Homo sapiens: one gene and its partner. The protein of the gene in region 2 purifies or fractionates together with the protein of the main gene of each other region. This does not show direct contact. Each region holds a gene or a part of one and is shown on either strand. Other genes may lie near its edges.

The links. Proteins that work in one complex are often made in the same cells at the same time.
Region 1: the proteins of CPQ (region 2) and DAAM1 purify together in Homo sapiens (affinity purification with mass spectrometry; one large-scale study listed by BioGRID and IntAct). This does not show direct contact.

Annotation. Positions count from the first base shown.
Region 1 is NC_000014.9:59,369,285-59,371,903, reverse strand, and holds the end of DAAM1 (disheveled-associated activator of morphogenesis 1), read right to left. Parts: 3' UTR 501-2,619; downstream 1-500. UniProt on the Homo sapiens protein: Binds to disheveled (Dvl) and Rho, and mediates Wnt-induced Dvl-Rho complex formation. May play a role as a scaffolding protein to recruit Rho-GDP and Rho-GEF, thereby enhancing Rho-GTP formation. Can direct nucleation and elongation of new actin filaments.
Region 2 is NC_000008.11:96,643,960-96,648,041, forward strand, and holds the start of CPQ (carboxypeptidase Q preproprotein), read left to right. Parts: upstream 1-1,282; 5' UTR 1,283-1,443; intron 1,444-4,082. UniProt on the Homo sapiens protein: Carboxypeptidase that may play an important role in the hydrolysis of circulating peptides. Catalyzes the hydrolysis of dipeptides with unsubstituted terminals into amino acids.

The DNA.
Region 1 (2,619 bases), on a different chromosome or scaffold from region 2:
CGTGAACTTAAATTGAGCTAAGGGTGGCTAGGCAGCAAATGTGATGTAGGACAAAGGGAAAGCTTCAACTTTCAGAGGATACTGATAAACAAATTTCTTGATCTGTATGGGTGCCATTTCCCATACTGACCCATATCAAGTTAATTTTTAATAAGAAAAACATGCCTCAAAACAAAAAGGCTTTGATTCTAGAGACTAGAGATTATTTTCTCTACTCTAGTTGAATAATTTCACCAGTAGCCCTACCATACATGAGTTATAACAAGAAATTGTATAACTCATACATAAACCAAGTATAGAAAGAGGTGGCATATGATAACCTGAACATACTGAATGCTGCCATAATAGAAAACTATATTCTTCTAGGTCCAGTAAGTACAAGTTTAAAAACAGGTATATATTTCCGATTCAGTGAACAATTTGCAAAATTGAAATTCAATGGTGGAAACTGCAAAGCAGTTTGATGACACTGTTTTAATAATTCATAGAAAGCATATATGTACACCCAATGAATTCATCTCTTTATTGCATATTGCTATTTTTAAAAAAACATGTACAGTCTCATAACACATACTTTTTTTTTCTCAGTACTATCTAACAACAGTCTTGCACCTAAAGACTAAGTGGTTCCAACTACTAAGCTAATAAGATATAAGACATATAATTAAGTTTACAAATTATGCATTTTCTTTTTGGCATTAATTTAAAAAAACAAAAAAAGTTTAAAATACACACCCAAGAGAGAAAAGTGGCTACTTACACCAGCACCAATCTAAAAAGTAGGTTTTTTTTTTGTTTTTTTTTTTTCTTTTCAACAATGGCACATGGAATTACCTGCACACAGTTTTCAGGGAAAGAAACCAAAAATGGAAATGGCAAAGGAGGCCCACCAGGATGGCCATATCAAAGGAGGATGATTAAAAGGGGCAAGAGGGACAGCTACACAAACTTGCTCCTTTATGTGACTTTCCCTCCACCTGTCTATTCCTTAAACTGTAAGACAAAGCCATTTTCAAAATACAGTTCCAAAACTGAGCCAGACCAAATTTATCCTGCTACAAATAGAAAAGAATATACATAGAGGCACTTTAGTTAAGGAACAGACAAAACCATCATTATATTCCAATCTTCCTCATCTCCAAGCCTTTTTGAGCCAAGTCTCTATCTGCACCTTTAACATGGTGTTATTGCAGACCTGGGTTAACTCGGGATTGGGGGAGTGCAACCTCTGCTTTGTATTTATGACTGTTTTATTTGCTAGTCATTTATTTCCATATAGTGTGTAGAAAGTCACTAAATTTGCAATGAGGAAAAGATGTAAAACCACAGCTCTTGACAACTCTTAGAGCACTATTTCACAGCTTTCACATAGCACAGATAACTCGCCATCTGTGCTAAGCATTATAGTTTATACAAATTATTTTTAAATAGTATGATTCCTGTACAGTGCACACATTGGTATTCTATTCATCCCTTAATATCCCCATTAGAATATAAGCTCTTTGGGGGCAGGGACTCTGTCTTGCTTACCATTGTAGCCCTACTATGCCTGGTACATAGTAGGAACTTAATAAATATTTGTTAATTGACTGAAAAACTCAATTTAGTGAGTAAATAATGTTCTAGTGCAACAGGACAAACTACTCTCTCCACAGGAAACCCAACCACAACAGGATCAATAGAAAGAAAAGAGAAAACGTTAGCCCCCAACTACAAATAAATAAAGCAAAGCCAAAAAAAAAAAAAAAAAAAAAAAAAAGTAAAAAAGTAACAGTCCTCTTTATATATCACATAATTTAAGGATATTAAGAGTTGGTAGGTTAATGGTAAGCATCTATATTTTATTTTCTAATGTTCATTGATTTTATTCATGTCTCCCTGAGAGCTTTATTTTTTTGGACTGAAATTTTACAGGTAGCTTTACTGACACACAATTTTAAAATGACAACATATAAACAGCAATCACTTCAAATATACTTAGAGATAAATAGATCTGGGCATCTCTGCTGATGTTGACATTTTGTGCATTCTTTATGTATCCTTTAGTCCAGACCTATATTTACAGAAAATGCAGCTTGTCCTACAAAACAGAAAATAGAAACTATAACAAAAAGGCACCCCATTAATTTTTTTTTTTTTTTTTTTTTTTTAGTAATCTTTATCCCTTCAGAGAATTCTTCCTTTAAGTCTTGGGTGAGATATTTTATTATTTTTAAGGTTTATATATCTATATTGTTAGAACAAGCATACTCTGGCAATGTTGTTCTTTAAAAAAAGCATGGATTGCATTTATATAGTGTTTTTTTCCAAAAATCTGAAGAAATTATCAAGAGCACTTGGCAGAGATAACTTGATGAAATCAGGGGAAAAAATTGATGTCCAACTTTTAAATATACAAAAACTTGATTGACATTCTACATAATTCAAATTGTGTGCAAGATGTTCTCAATAAACATTTACAGACTGTATCCCCACACCAATGTCAGAAATTCAAAGCTGGTCCTATTACTGATGTGATACATCAACATCACAATGTCAGCTATCAAAAATCATTTTAAATCTATGTTTTTCCAACAACTCCAGTTCCATCAATGAAAATAATTTTAAAGGATATCAAGC
Region 2 (4,082 bases):
AGAAATAAAAACAACAACAACAACCAATAATTGAAAAACTAATTTTATACTTTTTGGCATACTCATTGTACACTTGTAATAAAAACTGGGCTTGTAGTTTTTGTCTCTTTTCTTATTTGCTAGCAGGTTTTGATTTGTATTTTACAGAAATAATGGTCCATGTCAGATTGGAAATAATAAAAACTTGTCTTTTACCCTTGATAGTTTGAGAAAAAAGTAATTCAGTGGGGTTAGATATGGCATCCGAGAGATGATTCGGGAAAGGTGGGCCAGGGCCATGTTTATGTGGACCCTCCAATGCCTCAGAGTTCACACTTGTTTCAGTGGGCAACAGGACTAGTAAGGTTTAGAGGGACTGTTAACCGAAGGTGAGTGGACTTTGCACATTTTATGGTATTTTTTTTTTCCCAGTAGGCATGTGCTTATTCTTTCTTTTCTTTTCTAATTAAAAGTTCTGTTTGGTTTTTTTAGTTAAGAGGAGAGACTGGAACTGCTCAGTGTTTCACAAAGATAACTGTTTGTATTTGATAAGAGTTTCGTTAAACAAAGGAATTTGCACTTATCAAAACATAAAGCATTGAAAACACTGAGCACATACTCTGTGACCAGAATGCGTGTGACTTGTTGAGATAAGCCACACCGGGTAATCAGATGAGTCTCCTTTCTTCTTGGGCACCCTCATATAATTCAGGCACAAACGAAAGAGAAAACGCTTTTTCTGATCTCTCAGTTCGGGTCATCTCTGCCTTCCATCATCACCGCCTAACAATCCTACACCTGGCAGGGTGGGAAAACGGTTTAATAATCTCTTCCCTTTGGGAGGCGTTTGACAGCTCAGAAAGCATGGCCTTTACTCAGGCTCAGAGACACACAAAAACCTTTCACGTTTTCCTTTCAGCTTCGCAGCCCCGTCCTTCTCCACCTGCACGGGCACCCACTGAAGCACAGGACCCTTCTGCCAAGCCATGAGCCTTCTCAGGCCCCTGCCGCCCGCCTCGCCTGAGGCTGCGCTTCTGAAAAGCACGCGGCCCTGGCCTGCGCACCACCCAGTCTGAAGGCGACGCCCCTGCACGAAGGAGTCAGGCCTAGGGGCTCGGGACCCAGGGCGACACTCAATTTTCTAACAGGAGCCACAGCCCAGAAGCTGAGAAGCCTTCCGGCCGATCTGTGGCCCTGAGGTCGCCCTTGGAGGGCGAGTGAGAACCCCCCAGGCGTTCCGGAGGTGGCCCCCAGCCCGAACCCGGCGCCCGCCCCGGCTTCCCGAGTCAGGTCTTTGCCCCGCCTCTCGGCCCCGCGGCCTGGCCGGCAAGCAGGGCTGCAGTCACGGGGCGGCGCGGAGGGCCCCAGCCCAGTCAGGGGTGTGGCCGCCGCCACCGTAAGGCTAGGCCGCGAGCTTAGTCCTGGGAGCCGCCTCCGTCGCCGCCGTCAGAGCCGCCCTATCAGGTGTGTTTGCAGCCGAACTGGCAGTGCCCGCGGGCGGCTGGGCCGAGGCCTTGGCTCCTACCCGCGGGGGTCGGGCGGGCTGAGGCTGGAGCAGGCCAGGGGCGGGGGCAGAGGGGGACGGACTTCCAGCATCGCTCATTCGGGGGCGTGACGGGAGGACCTGGCTGGGGAGCGGCGGGTTGGGAGCCTGTGGCTGCCCCTTCGGTGACAGTGGAGTCACCGAGCCTAGAAATGGGGAAGCTGTGACGTGGGGGTGGTGGAGGGTGCTGCGGGACAGCAGCGAGCACGGCCCTCAGCCGTCCTTCCCAACACGGTTTCACTTCCCCTCAGCTCCAGGGCTCAGCCCCAAGCCGCCCCCTTCATCCCCCATCTGCAAACAATCCTGGTCCCCCTGAGCCTCCAATATGCCTTATGCAGTTCTTTTGGGGTTCCTTTCGCATTTTACCGTGTACTTTCGCTTTTGATGCGTCTAGTTTCTGCTACTGGACTCTCCTAGAATCGAAGTTCCATGAGGGCAAAGTCCCATCTGACTTAGGACTCAGAGCTACTCAATAAGTAATTGAATGAGTACCTATGCCGTAGAACTGAGTGAATTAACAAATGAGTAAGTGAATAAATGAGTGCATACGAGATACAGCTGAATCAATCAGTGCATGAGTGAAAATAAAGATGTATGAAGTGGAAGCAGTGGAGACGCAGGCTTACAACTCCTGTTTTTTGATAGCTTTCCAAAAAGTTGTGTGAATGTCGCACTTTTGCAAATGGAGGCATTCTGATTGGGACCACTTAAAAAGAGTTCTATGCTGTTCAAATGGTCTCTGGAAACGCCCCCTGGTATTTCCATTTTTGTTGGACTTGGCTATATGTGTTTGCTTAAAACAAAATATGCCTAGGTTTTTTCTTGCTTGTGTTTTGTTCACTTCTACTTTGGACGTTTAAAGAATCATTGTCACTATAATATTATTTCATGTATTTCTTAAAGATAAGGGTGACTCTGAAGGCAGAACCATATGACTCTGACTTGTTTGTAAAACCAGGCTTTTCTTTTGAATTCAGAGTTGTTAAGAATCTTGTCTGTTTTCCTGAGACAGGTGCTGGCTGATTTGCAGGTGACTGAAGAAGGCTACATAAGGCCCAGAAAGACGCTTATCTGTTTGTAAACAAATAGGCTTAGCACATAGCTTTAATACAGTTGGTCACTGCAGCCGTTCTTACTTGCCAGGTCCAGGTTCCAGAAGAGCTGGATGACCTTGGACTTGCCACTTGATCTCTTTAGGTTTTAATTTCTTAATCTCCAAAATGAAGATGTTTAGCTAGGAACCCTGCCTGAGTTAAACCTCTGGGATTCTTTTGTATCAGGGTTAGAAGGTGAAATTACAGATGATTTCATGGAGTTCTGCTTACTTCACCTCCCATAGCATTTTGTCTCTGCTCTCTTCTTTGCTGTTTACAGCTCATTTCCTTTCTTCTCCACATCTGCAACAAGAAAGCCTGGGAGCTCAAGATAAGTGTAATAAACCCTAGGCTGGTGGGGAGAAAGGAGGGTAAGATTTTCTTCTACATTGTCACAGGCTCCTGGTCCTGGGTCTGACTTTTTTCCAGTGCAACCCAGTCTGACAATGCCATATATTCCCAGTATATCTGGGGAACTGCATCACTATTTCTTCGCATGCATTTGAGATTAGTTATCATAGATCACATTTTGGAGCTGGAAGGACCTTGGAGATTTTTTAAAGGCACTTCAAAAGTCATTATACATACATATTTAAATATTTTTGCATGCTACATTTAACAAACACAAAGTTCCAAATGTGTTAAGTAAAATGAAATTAATGTTACCTACTTCAGTGAATTCAAGTTTATAAGGAGAAGTGGAATACACATGTTGCTTGGTGAAAAGGGCCAACTTTCTCACACTGTTTTCCCAATGAGGTCATGTGTCATACAGGCATGGAATGTTACAAAGCTGATATTTATGGGGCACTGACCATACACCAGGCACTGTTATATTTAACCTTTTTACTTATATTGCCCCATTTAATCATCACTATATATCTAAGAGCTAGATACTATGGTAAGTCCTATTTGATCTTCTTAACTAGAAACAGTACATGGAAAATGGGAGAGTTAGGACTCAAAACTCAAGCAGATGGAAACAGGGTTTCTCCCAGAAACAAGACAATCCTGCCAGGAAAAACTGTGTGACTTTGAAGAATGTGGTCTCTGTGTGTGTTCAAGCATATATACAAACCCTGGGTTATTTGGGTAAATGAATTTAGAATGAGAGCACAGGGTGAAATGATGAAGACTGAATTATAGGGGAGTTGGTTGTTTTATCATTTTGAAAATTATTGAATTCCATTGAGATTCCAGGAGACTCTGATACTTTGACCTAGGTGCCCATGCATCTTAATTTTAAATGTGTTCAGACTTACCAATTTAGGGAATATAAAATGAGTGACATCGACAGCTGCCATCAGTGAATGGCACTTAAGGGCTTTGAACCATGAGTGCTAAGCAGTGTTGTTTCTTGGACTAGCTTTGTGCCCTTGGTAAGGCACTGCCTCCCAACCTCTTTCTTTATAAGACCAACAACCCCTAGTATAGACAAAGAACAATGCCTACATCTGTGTAATCCA